2 linked regions of the Homo sapiens genome follow. The protein of the gene in region 2 binds, or shares a complex with, the protein of the main gene of each other region. Each region holds a gene or a part of one and is shown on either strand. Other genes may lie near its edges.

What was found. Proteins that work in one complex are often made in the same cells at the same time.
Region 1: the proteins of EZH1 (region 2) and EED are in contact, whole or in part, in a cryo-EM structure (PDB 7KTP), measured with the Homo sapiens proteins. Residues at the interface, in NP_001982.2 of Homo sapiens: Gly37, Ala38, Lys39, Leu41, Tyr42, Val43, Asn45, Phe46, Lys48, Val49, Gln50, Lys52, Thr53, Gln54, Leu56, Asn57, Glu59, Trp60, Leu63, Arg64, Val65, Gln66, Pro67, Val68, Gln69, Ser70, Met71, Cys83, Thr84, Ile85; in NP_003788.2 of Homo sapiens: Cys84, Val85, Asn86, Ser87, Leu88, Lys89, Glu90, Asp91, Trp103, His104, Ser105, Lys106, Glu107, Val112, Arg120, Leu123, Tyr124, Gln129, Gly130, Glu131, Ile132, Arg133, Leu134, Leu135, Gln136, Ser137, Tyr138, Val139, Asp140, Tyr154.

What each region holds. Positions count from the first base shown.
Region 1 is NC_000011.10:86,239,809-86,247,772, reverse strand, and holds the start of EED (polycomb protein EED), read right to left. Parts: upstream 3,021-7,964; 5' UTR 2,544-3,020; coding exon 2,430-2,543; intron 1-2,429. UniProt on the Homo sapiens protein: Polycomb group (PcG) protein. Component of the PRC2/EED-EZH2 complex, which methylates 'Lys-9' and 'Lys-27' of histone H3, leading to transcriptional repression of the affected target gene.
Region 2 is NC_000017.11:42,735,019-42,742,040, reverse strand, and holds part of EZH1 (histone-lysine N-methyltransferase EZH1), read left to right. Parts: intron 1-7,022.

The DNA.
Region 1 (7,964 bases), on a different chromosome or scaffold from region 2:
CTCCCTCAAGAGTAAAACTATTGCCCTTATCTTTTCTAAACTCATTTTTATACAATGTTCTCTACTCCCTTACCTTACTACTGCCCCTAAGTCAGGGGTACATGGATGAAATTCAGAAGGCTTGTGAACTCAAATGGGGAAAAAAAATTGCATCTTAATTTTTGCCACCTTTAAAATTTAGCACTTCCTTCTATTATTATCTAGGTAACACATGCTTAATGTTACTGAAGTTGTGACTCTGCCACCAATGGAAATCAAGTATTTTTATATTACACTTCGAAAAAGTGTTTATACCCATCACTACTATCAGACCCGCTGCTAGATCTTGTTACTTAATGTGCTAATAAAGTACATATAGTATAGGACTACATCTAAAATTTGTTTTAGAAATATTTTATAACATGGTGTACAATTTTATAATTGAATTTGTTTGTAACCTCATATCCTGTATTTCATACATCTAAAAATGTTATTTTGAGAAGACTCTACAAGATTAAGGCTTCCAAGGCATGCGCACGCACACACACAAAATTAAGGCTATCCAAATGGAGGAACCAAAACAAAACTAATCCAATCATTTGGTCTTGAACAGCTTTAAAATTGCAGCAAAGAATATGTTTTCCTGTAAGGGTCTGCAAGAAGAAAATAAGCTTTATTTTGTCCTTTGCAAGTTTCTTCATTCTAAACAGGTCTGACAGTTTCATTATATTTTGCCTGATTATTAAGTATGTGGAAGAGCCAGAAACATTATTCTATGTAATCATAAAATTAGTAGTAGTAATTATTATAAATAAATAACATGTGTATAGTACTTACTATGGGGCAGACACTCTTCTTAGTACTTTAGCTATATTAACTCATTTAATGCTTACAAATACTCTATGAGGTAAATACCATACACCACCATCCTCATTTTTAAGAAACTAAGACAATTATGTCAGTCTCTTGCTCGAGGTCAAGCTAATAGAACAGAAATTTTAACCTATCACTTGGATCCAGCATCTGTGCTCTTAATACTCTAATCTGCCTAGAGAAATTTAAGAAAACGCAGAAATAAAATGAACGGTCTTCAAATAATAAAAAGAAGAGGGTAAAAAATGTTAGATCCCAATGTACAGTGAGATTGGGGCGCACAATCGGGTGAAAAATACAAAAGTAACACTTAACACCCAAGCTTTTCTGAAATTTGAAGTCTAAGATCCCACAAACTGACAATCCCAAGAATATCTATCTTGTCTCTGCAAAAAGAATCCTTTCCCATCTTTTCCGTGAAAATCTTAGTCATGACATCATTATATGTTTCAGCTAGGAATTATGACAGAATTTAGAAACTGCGTGTAGAAGATGTAACATTTATTCCTAAAACTAGCCAAACTGAGAAAATGAAGAACTTACGCCACTCTTCTGAAACATTTTAAGGATTTTTTAAAAGATATTCACAAGTTGTTATATATCATGAGAAGGAGAATCACATTTTGGAGTAGTATCTTTGAATAAATTGTCAAGATACTTCGTTGACCTTACTGGTTATCAACCTAAAACATGAAACTGAAAACTTATTTATGTCAATTCGGCTCTTACTGGCGAGTCAATTAAAACTCAGTTGGGTTAAATGTTGGTACCGAATGATTACGAATACCCATTTCAGAGCTTAAAAAAATCTGATTGCAAAACATCGCGCACTTGGCGAAGCCAGGAACCCACACTTAAATACATCTGCCTATACCACTGTTGCCCAAAATCTTCCAGGTCGCCACCCCCCTCACCTTTATCTTAAGTAAAAACGTTCAAAGAAGAAATCACCCACTCTTACTTCCTCAAAGGTAGTCACTCCCCACCCCCAAATCAAAAATCGATCCTCTCAATTCGGCTCCTCCTACAGAAAAGGCGACCTTCAGGCGCACCCGGTCTCCGCGGACAGGACGGAGGCGGACACAAAACCCCCTTTAATAAAGTCTCCCAAACTCCGCAAATCGAAGATCACTTTCCATCCTGAAAATTCCACAAGGGTCTTAGAGTGACAACCCTTACGCTCCTTTAACAGGGTCCCTAACTCTGCCCCGTCCTTCCAACTTTCTTAGAAAAGTCTCTAACGTGCCTTTTAAACTACTAGAATCTCAGACCCGCACTCTCCCCTTAAATCCCCCCAAAGGCCAAAACACTCCCCATCACATGCAAACTGATTTCAGGGCAGACTTCTCAGACCCACGCAATCACTAGAACCACTCTCCTTTGCCTAGTTCCTGCTTGCTCTCGGCCCCACATCAAAATCCCCGTAGGCAATTTCAATTTTCTCCCGCACGCCCGCGTTTTCCTGAGTGACACCTCTCCCTCCCCCCACAGCAGCCCGCTCGTCCCCGCGCCCCCCGTTTTAAAAGAATTTAAAACTTTCACTCCGCAGTCTCGTAACTGCCAGAAGCTGCACTTACATTCTCGTCTCCAGAGAGGTCTGGATTGCTGTTCTCGTCACTGCTCAGCTTCTGCTTCTTGGCCGCAGGCATGTCTGTTCCCGCCGGCGCAGTCGACACTTCCCTCTCGGACATATTCCTCCGCCTCCCTCCAGGTTCCTGCCGCCTGGGGCGGGGCCTCCGCCACACCGCCGTCAAGCAAGCCCGGCCCGAGCTTGCCGCAAAGTTGCCGCTGCCGCCGCCACCTCCACCGCCCCCCCCACTGTCGCAAATCGCGCCCAGCCGCCGAGGCGGGCGTGCGTGCGACCCCGCCACACTGCTGAAAAAGGGGCGCGCGCGCGCGCCCTCCCGCGCGGCTTCCTGGCTCCTTCCCTTCCCCAACTCCCGTCTTGCCCTTTTCCCGCCGCCCTCCCGGCAGTCTACACGATGTAAGGTCCGTTGGATTAAGAGGGCAGTATTAAGTATGTCTCCCTTCCCACCACCGCCTCGAGAAGAGGCGAAACTCAAAGGGATGCTCCCTCACCCCCTTCCTCCTTCCAAAGACGTTTCAGCCGCAATTGGCCCGTTCCTTCGATCTCCGACCCGCTGCTAGGGAGCGAAAGTCTGTGGAATGGGCTACACCACCAATGTCCCAGGAAACGGGGGAAGATACAAGACGTCACCTCTTGCTTTAGCTGTGCATGCCACGTTTCCTTAATCTTGAACTTGGAGGACAGCGCTTCCTGACTATTCACGGAACTATTCATAACCTAATTCTTCCTTGAAGATAGAAATGCAAAAACAGTAACCTGCTTCCCCCTGGCTTCCCCCATCTGGCGAATGGAAAGTACCCGTCAGGGGATGCGCAGGCGCCGTGGCGTACTCTTGCGCTGGGTTCGTCGAAACCCGCCTCCTCCAAGCCCCTCCTCTGTTTGAATTCTCGTTTGCTGAACCAGGTAGTTTTCTACCCGGTTTCCGAATCCCAGGGTGGATTTCAAAGCGCTACCGAATTATACTCTAGACGCTTCGTAAATTCTTGTCGGATATTTATTCTGTTGACTATTTATTGTAATGAATGATTATCCTTCCAGTTGCTACCAATAGTGGTTAAGACTTAAATAGAAATATCCTAACATTATGAGACTAGACTCCAATGAGTTACAGCCAAAGTGCTCTTTTTAGCTGCTAAAGGATAGGCCCTGAACTACGCCAAGGCCTAAGAATCAGTGCTCATCTCCATTATGAGATTGTGATACTTAACCGACAATGTTTTGCTTGTTTTTGCACATCAGATACAATGAAATTCTAGAAGGCAACACAACTGTTAAACTTCACCAAAATATTTGCCTCTGTTACTATATCTATTCTCTAGCAGGTGCCAGATAACATTGGTGAGCCTTGTGGAATTATTATATGGGTCATGAAACCATAACTGAATGAGCAGCAGGAAAAGGAGAGTGATGACGAAAAATAAAATACGGCATCCGCCACCTTTTTTTTGTTTTTCTTAGAACATGATTGTGACTACTTATCTATTCGGGCTTCTGTAAAAATGTCCTCATCTGTAAAAATGAGGAGGCAGGAAGGGAGAAAGGGACCTACCATTTCTTGGGCACCTGCTTGATGTTGTATATCTTTTCTCTTCTAGACCTCATTACCCACCTAGAGTGCACCATCCATAAAATTCTAGTATACTTGAATTATTTCTGCATGATAACTTTATAACCAGGACATCAGTTTCCTTATCTGCAGATTGCAAGTCACTCTTTCTTTTGTAGATAAAGAGAGAACTCTTGGTTGAGAATGAGAAAAGGAAGTAAAGCAAAGGCAGGTCAGAATGAGAGGTTTCTGCAGTGAAGACTTTGAAATAAAGAAGCCGAAAAAAAATTAAAGTTGAGGTCTCAATGACGGCAGTCATTTGTTCAGTACTTCCAATGTTCCAGGCACTACTAAGCACTCCTCAGTTGGTGAGAAGAGATGAGACTGGAGTAGAGTAAGCTCCTGACAAAGTAAGACGTGCTTTGGCATGACATTTTCATCAGCAGACAGAAACATCCTTCCCTTTGTTAAGAACATCTTTCCCAACAAAGGGAAGGACGTTTCTGAAATATAGTTCTACAAGTAAAGGATAATTGACTAAAGCATTTCAAATTAAAATTACTCCGTGTGTGAGAGATTAGTGGGAGCTGGGAAGTGGGAGTCAACGTCTAGTCATAAAATTAGAAAAGTGCTGAACATTTGGATAAAGGACACATATGGTAGAAAAATGCCTTACAGCATTCATATTATCTGTAACAAAGCAAAAATAGTTTAAAGAGGCTTATTAAAACTTGAAGGGGTTATTTTTAAAATGTTTCTGATGAATCAGGGGTGATAAATGGAAATTAGTTTATATTACTACGTTATTGTCACTACATTAAAGGAAAAATATTCTGACACTTGTTAAAATAGTAAGGAACACTTAATTCAGGACTATTTTGATAGCTGTCAAGACTATCACAATAGGAGAGAGATCAGGCTCAACTCCAAATTACAGCAAGGAGTGGGGATGTATAGTCAAGGAGCAAAGTTGGAGGGGTTGGTGGTTGGAAAATTACTAAGAAGAGACATCAAGAATGGGGAAACTTTTGCTACACCAACTTAACAGAATTTGTGCTAAAAAAGGCCGGGGTGATCAGATATCCAGGGTATGGGTTTTTCTCTAAACTGATGCAGAATTCTTGCTACAGCTGAGCCAGGCAAGCTAGACAGGAAGATGGAGAAGAGGGCTCAGAGGAGAGTCTTTGTTACTAATTTAAGATATGTAAAATGTCATAGGTGTTCCATGCAGAGTACTACTTTTGTGGTATTAATTTAATAACCATAAAAGTCTAATTACCTATTAAAAATAAGTTTTGCTGAGTGCATTGATGTGTACCTGTAGTTCCAGCTACTCAAGAGACTAAGGCAGGAAGATTGCTTGAGCCCGGGATATCAAAGCCAGGCTGCGCTGCATAAGGAGACCTACTTCTCTAAAAAAGAAAAATTTGTACGTTTCTCAACACTGCATTCTCCTACTGTGAAAGATCTCAGGAACCATCACAGTTGGAGAGGTCTTACTACCCACATTTTACAAATGAGGAAACTAAGACTTAGGATAAGTAAACAGTATGCCCAAAGACACACAGCTGTTCAAGTGGCAGTACTAGAGATTGTGTTCAATTGATTGGAAAGCCAAAGCACTTTTACCTCAAGATGAGGGACCCAGGCAGCTCTAAATTTATGTAATTCTATGCACAGAGCTTGGTCTTTAGACCACAGAATTGTTTATAAAGTATCAAAGAACTTTAAAAAGCTATCTCACTTGGGACAGAAAGAAGATACAACTGGGAAAACAAACAAAGAATCTATAGCATAGTTTATAGTAATGTACGGATTTCAGTCTTTACTTAATTTTGACCAATGTAACATGGTAATGTAAGATGTTAATAATGAGGGAAACTGGATGAGGGGAATACAGGAACTCTCTATGCTATCTTTGTTCTTAGTAAATTTTCTGTAAAAGTATTCCAAAATAAAAACTTACTTTAAAATATCTATCTCATACTTGGCTGTTGAGAATTCAGTAAGAAATACCCCTTAGCCTTCAAGTAAGTGGTTGATCCATCTTGGAACTTTCCAAGATCATTTACTTATATAGAAAAAGAAAATTCACAGCGTTCCTTGGCATTGTCTCCTGGTATCTTGTAAGCTTCATATCAGGAAATGAGTTTCAAAAGCTAAATTAAATCCTTCCCATTTCAACTGGAGTCTATTTCTCATTCATTCAACATTTTTGTCTCTTCTGCTTCATAAATAGCAGCTGTTCATCATCATTCATGCAATGTGTAATCATATGCTTGCAGATCTGGTTTTCTATGAACAGAACATCATATGGCTTATTTGAACGTTTTCAAATCAATCAGGAAGAATTTACTGAATGCCATTTACATGCAAAGCAGTAGGATAATTCCAGGGGCAATGGGGAGGAGGGGACAATAAAAAAGAAAATAAGACACAGTCTCTACCTTCAAACAGCCTAATATTCATCCAGCGTTAAGAAATAACGAATGGGGCCGGGCGTGGTGGTTCATGCCTGTAATCCCAGCACTTTGAGAGGCCGAGGCAGGTGGATCACCTGAGGTCAAGAGTTCGAGACTAGTCTGGCTAACATGGCGAAACCCCGTCTCTACTAAAAATACAAAAATTAGCCTGACGTGGTGGCTGGAGCCTGTAATCCCTGCTACTCGGGAGGCTGAGGTGAGAGAATAGCTTGAAACCGGGAGGTTGAGGTTTGCAGTGAGCTGAGATCACACCATTGCACTCCAGCCTGGGTGACAAGAGTGAAACTCTGTCTTAAAAAAAAAAAAAAGAAAAATAACGAATAGATTTAATATATATTTACTGAGTACCTACTGTGTGCCCAACACTGTTCCAGGTGCTGAGGAAACTTGACAATAAGCAAAACCAGACAATTTCCTGCTGTCATCATGCTTATTGACAAGTAGGAGAAACAAGCATTAACCAAATAAATGTGAAATTACCGTGGTAAGTGGTATGAAGGGGAAGTACAAGGTCAGGGCTGCTGCTAGCCCATATGGTATCTTTGTGCTATTTTTTAAAAGGCCATAGCAGAAAGAGCCCAGAGTAGGTAAAGCTTGGCAAGCAAACAATGACTTTGGTAAATTAGAAAAGGCACCCCCTTTTCCAGATTGATACAACCCTGCTCCGTGTGCAAGGCTTTGTGAGTGGAGCACAAATTTGATTTTAGTTTTAGTTGTCACCTCAGCTGGGAACCCTTGTTTAGATGAACAAGCTGCACAGGCATACACAGCAGCTGGACAAAGTTTCCATGGACGTGTGTAATAAAGTGAGACATGGGAGGGTTTCCCTGAGAAACAGACAGAAGAGTAGAACTAAAAGAAGAATGGGAGTTAACCAGTCTCCCATTAAGAAGAGAAGGAGAAACATTCTAGGGAGTGATAACAGCATGTGCAAAAGTCCTGGCGCAGGAATATGAGAAGAGTACAAACGCCATTGGTACACTGAAAGGTCAGTGCTGGTGAAGGACTGAAAAGAGAAGGTGACAAAAGTGTGGTAACAGAGAAGGCTAGAAAAGAAGGTAAGGGGCCAGATCGTGGAGGATCTTATAGACCTTCTTAAGACAAGTCTATTAACATGTATCTCCTGTTGATAAGACTTATACAGAAGGAATTAGAATGGCATTATTTTAACTCTGTTTGTATTTATTTCACTTATATACAGTGAAATGCACAGATCTCAAGTATATAGTTCCATGTGTTTTGACACAGGCATACACCCATATAATCCACACACCATCAAGATACAGATGGAGCTTTCCAACACCTCAGAAAGTTTTCTCATGCCTCTTCCCAGTCAAACCTCTCCTCTCTTTCTCCCCAGGCAGCCACTATTCTGTTTTGCCTATATTTGCATATTAGTTTTGCCTATTGTAGAACTTCATATAAATAGAATAATTCAGTATGTTCTCTTTTGTATCTGGCTTCTTTTGCTCAGCATAATGTTTTTTAGATGTAT
Region 2 (7,022 bases):
TGTTTCTTATATATTTGCCTTTGGATGATACCTTCAAACAACCAATTTAAGTCTGGACACTGTGGCTCATGCCTGTAATCCCAGTATTTTGGGAGGCCGAGGTGGGCGAATCACTTGAGTTCAGAAGTGTGAGACCAGCCTGGGCAACATGGCAAAACTCTGTCTCTACAAAAACATTACAAAAATTAGCCAGGCCTGGTGGTGTGGGCCTGTAGTCCCAACTACTCAGGAGGCTGAGTAGGGAGGATTGCTTGAGCCCAGGAGGCAGAGGTTGCAGTGAGCCGAGATCAAGCCACTGCATTCCAGCCTGGGCAACAGAGCAAGACCCTGTCTCAAAACAAAATAAGAAACCGATTCAAAATATTAATTTTGTCTATTTTTAATTCCTAGGGTCTGAAACCTGGCTTCATTACTCTGTAGGCAACAGTTCCTTCCCTTTGATTTGCTGTTTATATGAAACATGTAACAATTCATGTCATTAAGTATATCTTTTTCTGGTCTTAGATTAAGTTTAAAAAGTTTCACTTTGGGCCCCCCACGTTGTGGCTCACAGCTGTAATCCCAGCACTTTGGGAGCAGGCCGAGGGATTGATCACTTGAAGCCAGGAGTTTGGGACCAGCCTGTCCAACACGGTGAAACCCCGTTTCTACAATTAGCTGGGCGTGGGCATCCCACACCTGTCATCCCAGCTACTTGGGAGGCTGAGGAACGAGAATCCCTTGAACCTGGAAGGCGGAGGTTGCAGTGAGCTGAGATGGCACCACTGTACTCTAGCCTGGGCGACAAAGGGAGACCCTGTCTCAAAAACAGTTTCCACTTTGTTCACTATTTCTATTTTGTTCACTAGTAGCGTCCCAGAAAAGATTTGAGGTAGCAACACTAAAAACACACTAATTCCATTTCTACATAGAATAAACTAAAGAGAAAAGAGAAAACAATTTGTGGAGAAAAGTGAAGATAATTAGATAGGTTGGGATTGAGGGGAAGGGTTAAAGGTTAAAAAAAGAAAAATTGTGCTTCTCCATTCTGGAAAGTCCCCAGCTTTTTCTTTGTTTTGTTTTATGTCCAAACTGTGTACATATTGGATTCTTTCCTACTCCTTAGTCTATCAGTCAATCATCAGTTGAGACTTGAGTACACTACACCCTAAAGTCATGAGTTACTTAATGGGTAGTTGGAATTCAGTACCTTTAGTGTGTTTTATTCTCTAACTCACCTACCCGAATAATTTGATTCAAAATAGACTAAAAAGTCTTATTTTTATTGGATGATATGAGCAGGCACTAAATACAGTACAGTATTAAACTTTGGGCTGACACAGTACAGAACCAGTCAAGATAGGGCTCTAGCCTGTTAGGAGATTGCTTTTACTCTTCCAAGTCAGCGTTCTCACTGGGCACGGTGGCTCATGTCTGTAATCTCAACCCTTTGGGAGGCTGAGGAAGGGGGATTACTTCAAGTCAGGAGTTCAAGGCCAGCCTGGGAAACATAGCAAGATCTTGTAGGCTGGGCGTAGTGGCTCACGCCTGTAATCCCAGCACTTTGGGAGGCCGAAGCGGGTGGATCACAAGGTCAAGAGATCGAGATCATCCTGGCCAACATGGTGAAACCTGTCTCTACTGAAATGCAAAAATTAGCTGGGCGTGGTGGCTTGCACCTGTAGTCCCAGCTACGCGGGAGGCTGAGGCAGGAGAATCGCTTGAACCCGGGAGGCGGAGGTTGCAGTGAGCTGAGATTGCACCACTGCACTCCAGCCTGGCAACAGAGCAAGACTCCGTTTCAAAAAAAAAAAAAAAGATCTTGTCTCCACTGAAAATATAAAAAATTAGCCAGGCATGGTGGCATGTGCCCGTAGTCCCAGCTACTAGGGAGGCTGGGGCCAAAGGATCCCTTGAGCCTGGGAGGTCGAAGTGCAGTGAGCTATGATCATGCCTGGTCGGCAGAGTGGGACCCTTTCTCAAAAAACAAAATAAAATGAAATAAAATTAAACCAGAGTTATAAATCCTGTGAGCCAGCATTTTCCTTTGGGTCTCATAAAAACTAATCCTGTTTATGGTGAAACCCTGTCTCTACTGAAAACACAAAAAATTAGCTGGGCATGGTGGTGGGCACCTGTGATCCCAGGTACTCGGGAGGCTGAGGCAGGAGAATGGCGTGAACCTGGGGGATGGAGCTTGCAGTGAGCCAAGATCGCGCCACTGCACTCCAGCCTGGGCGACAGCGCGAGACTCTGTCTCAAAAAAAAAAAAACTAATCCTGTTTAGATTTTTGTTACCATTACCTCCAGTGCATACGATCTAATTTTTTTTTTGAGACAGAATTTCACTCTTGTTGCTCAGACTGGAGTGCAATGGCACGATCTCAGCTCATTGCAACCTCTGCCTCCTGGGTTCAAGCGATTCTCCTGCTTCAGCCTCCCGAGTAGCTGGGATTACAGGCATCCACCACCATGCCCGGCTAATTTTGTATTTTTAGTAGAGACGGGGTTTCTGCATGTTAGGCTGGTCTCGAACCCCTGTCCTCAGGTGATCCACTCGCCTTGGCCTCCCAAAGTGCTGGGATTACAGGTGTGAGCTACTGCACCCAGCTGATCTGATTCTCTTAATTAAGCAACACTAGGAAATACTAATGTTATAATTTTATTTTAAATTAGAATTCAGAGTCACAGGTTCCTGTTAGGAAGGTTCTTTCTGTGTGTAGTGCCCAGAAGCTCAAACTAATGACAGATGAAAATACCTCAGAGAAGTTGGAGGGTATAAATTAGAGATGTGCTTTATAGATCCTAACTGAGAGATCAGGCTGTGTACCTAGTCACAGAATTGATTTTAATTGAAATGTTGATGAAATTGGTGATCACCAGAATGACCCAAAGGTGTGTTACTAGAGCTCTTTGCAGGGATAGGTTCACCCCTATCATTCAGGTTTCAATTACACTATGAATCAAAAAAGGAATAGGATGAAATATTTAAAAATATAGGCCAGGGGCCAGGCGTGGTAGCTCACGCCTGTAATCCCAGCACTTTGGGAGGCCGAGGCAGGTGGATCACGAGGTCAGGAGATGGAGACCATCCTGGCCAACATGGTGAAACCCCGCCTCTACTAAAAATACAGAAATTAACCCGGCTTGGTGGCGAGCATAGTCCCAGCTACTCAGGGGGGGTGGAGGCAAGAGAATCGCTTGAACCCAGGAGGTGGAGATTGCAGTGAGCTGAGATAGCACCACTGCACTCCAGCCTGGGTGACAGAGTGAGACTCCTTCTCAAAAAAAAAAAAAAAAAAAAAATCTAGGCCAGGCCCGGTGGCTTACGCCTGTAATCCCAGCACTTTGGGAGGCCAAGGTGGGTGAATTACCTGAGGTTAGGAGTTCCAGACCAGCCTGGCCAAGATGGTGAAACCCTGTCTCTACTAAAAATACAAAAATTAGCTGGGGCAGAGGTTGCAGTGAGCTGTTATTGCACCAACGCACTCCAGCCTGGCAACAGAGTGAGACTCCATCTCAAAAAAAAATAAAAAAAATAGACTGGGCACGGTGGCTCACGTCTGTAATCCCAGCAGAGCGAGATTCCGTCTCAAAAAATAATAATAAATACAAATAATAAATACAAATAAATAAAATTAAAAAATAAAAATCTGTAGTGCCATCTGCCTCCAAAGGCTTACTTAGCCTTGCTGGTTAATAAAATTATTATTCAAGAGAAACTATCAAAGACACTGAATTTGCCCCTAAGACAAAGAAGCTGTTTCTGCAAAGGGACACCTTATGTAGATGAAAAAATTTAATAGTTTGGAACTTTTGTATTCTGATCTCAGTCTCTCTAAGTTTAAGAACTTGTTCCTTAAATTTTTTTTTTTTTTTTTTTTTTGAGACAGAGTCTTGCTCTGTCGCCCAGGCTGGAGTTCAGTGGCACCGTCTCGGCTCACTGCAAGCTCCGCCTCCTGGGTTCACGCCATTCTCCTGCCTCAGCCTCCTGAGTAGCTGGGACTACAGGTGCCCGCCACCATGCCCAGCTAATTTTTTGTATTTTTAGTAGAGACGGGGTTTCACTGTGTTACCCAGGATGGTCTTGATCTCCTGACCTCGTGATCCGCCTGTCTCGGCCTCCCAAAGTGCTGTGATTGCAGGCGTGAGCCACCGCACCCAGCCGTTCCTTAAATTTTTTATTGCCATACAATTTCAGTAATGTTTTCCCATTTCCACCTAGTGACAGACTACATTCTAGTTTTAGCCTTTGCAGCAAATTGAGATCCAGTTTTCTGGGGAAAGATTGCTACATTTTTATAGCTTTCTTTTCCTGTAGAGATGTGACAGTAAATAAAGTGGTTCGTATTTCCAATGATTAATCTTTTTAAAAAATAAACTCTATTTTTTAGAATAGTTTGTTTTTTAAGAAAGAAAAAAAAGAAAGAATAGTTTGTTTGTTTTTGGTTTGTTTGAAACAGGGTCTCACTCTGTCACCCAGGCTGGAGTGCAATGGCGCAGTCACAGCTTGCTCCTGCAGCCTTGATCGTGCAGGCTCCATCTGTCTTCTCACCTCAGCCTCCCTGGTAGCTGGGACTAGAAGCACACGCCACCATGCCCAACTAATTTTTGTATTTCTTTTGTAGAGATGGGATCTCACCATGTTGTCCAGGCTGGTCTCGAACAACTGGGCCCAAGAGATCCACCTGCCTCAGCCTCCAAAAGTGTTGGAATTTCAGGCATGAGCCATCACGCCTGCCCTAGAATAGTTTTAGATTTATTTTAAAAATTGTAGGCTGGGCGCGGTGGCTCACGCCTGTAATCCCAGCACTTTGGGAGGCCAAGGCGGGTGGATCACCTGAGGTCAGGAGTTCAAGACGAGCCTAGGCAACATGGTGAAACTCTGTCTCTACTAAAAATACAAAAATTAGCTCGGCGCGGTGGCATGTGCCTGTAATCCCAGCTACTTAAGAGGCTGAGGCAGGAGAATCGCTTGAGCCCAGAAGGTGGAGGTTGCAGTGAGCCGAGATTGCATCATTACACTCCAGCCTGGGCGACAGAGCGAGACTCTGTCTCAAAAAAAAAAAAAAATTGTAAAGCTAGTACAGGGAGTTCCTGTTCTGCAACTGGCCAGCAGAACATCTTAAGTGGAATCATATGCAGTTATTTGCGTCTTATTTTTTTCACTTAGTATGGTGGTTTCATTTTATTATTACTATTATTATTAATGAGGCAGAGTCTCGCTCTGTTCCCCAGGCTGGAGTGCAGTGGCGCATTCTCAGATCACTGCAATCTCTACCTCCCTGCAATCTCTGCCCTGCTAGGTTCAAGCGATTCTCCTGCCTCAGCCTCCAAGCAGCTGAGACTACAAGTGCACACCACCATGCCCAGCTAATTTTTGTATTTTTGTAGAGATGAGGTTTCACCATGTTGGCCAGGCTGGTCTCGAACTCCTGATCTCAAGTGATCTGCCTGCCTCAGCCTCCCAAAGTGCTGGGATTACAGGCGTGAGCCACTGCACTCAACCAGCATAGTCTTTTAATGGTCTTGAGATGTGGTGTGAATGTATAGAAACTATTCATGGCTTTTTGTTGCTGAATAGTATTCCATTGTGTGTGTATATATCTATACACACTACATTTTGTATCCATTAGCCAATCCATTGATATGTGTGTTGTTTTCACTTTTGGCTATTATAAATAAATATGAACATTTGGGTACAGATCTTTGTGGAGACATAGGTTTTCAATTCTCTTGGATAAATAATTAGAAATTGTATGCCAGGTTCTGTGGTAAGTATATATTCAGCTTTATTTTTGAAAAACTGGCAAACTGCCTTCCACAGTGGCTATATCACTTTGCATTCCTACCAGCAGTGTATGAGGATTCCAGTTGCTTCACGTCCTCACCAACAAGTTGTATTATCAGTCTTTTTTCATTTTAGCCATGGTAGTGGTGTTTAATAGTATCTCATTGTATTTTTCATCTGCATTTCCCTAATGACTAATGATATGGAGCAACCTTTTGTGTGCTCATTTGCCATTCCTGTATCTTTTCTGGTGACATAGCTGTTCAAATTTCTGCTCTTTTTTTTTTTGAGACGGAGTCTCGCTGTCTCCCAGGTTGGAGTGCAGTGGCACGATTTTGGCCCACTGCAACCTCTGCCTCCTGGGTTTAAGCAATTCTCCTGCCTCAGCTTCCTGAGTAGCTGAGATTGCAGGCAGACGCCACCACGCCTGGCTAATTTTGTATTTTTAGTAGAGATGGGGTTTCACAATGTTGGTCAGGCTGGTCTCGAACTCCTGACCTTGTGATCCACCCGCCTTGACCTCCCAAAGTGCTGGGATTACAGGCATGAGCCACCACATCCAGCCTTCTGCTCACTTTTTATTGGTGATTTGTCTTATTATTGAGCTATAGGACTTGCTTATATAAATATTTTTTAATTTCTTGATCAAAACAGCATATGTTTTGGAGTTTATCTTCAATGTGTAGATGAACATAATGAAAGGCTGTTAAGTACTAGCTAAGTACCTAACTGGAATATAAGTGCTGTTTTGCATGTGTAAGTAACTAAATAATAGATCTGGTAGAAATATAAAGTATTTTTTTGTGTGCCACTCCCTTTGCCCAACACCAATGAATCCATCTCTCCAAATCTGCCTGTTCTAGTGAATGCTAAGTTTTTTATTTGTTCCCTTTTTTTTTTTTAACTTTGATATGATAATTGTTGGTTAGGGTCCAGCTGTGGTGAAAACTCATCTTATGGCTGAGTTTCAGGTGTGTGCCAACATGGCCTGCTAAATTTTGTATTTTTAGTAGAGTCAGGGTTTCACCATGTTGGCCAGGCTGGTCTCGAGCTCCTGGCCTCAAGTGATCCACCCGCCTCAGCCTCCCAAAGTGTTGGGATGACAGGCATGAGCCACCACAGCCAGCCAGACACGACAGCATCTGTAGATTATGTTCTATTCCATTACTTAATACTTCTTTTTTCTTTTCTTTCCCTCCCTGCCTTTCTGTTTCCTTCCCTCCCTCCCGCCCTCCTTCCTTTCTTCCTTTCT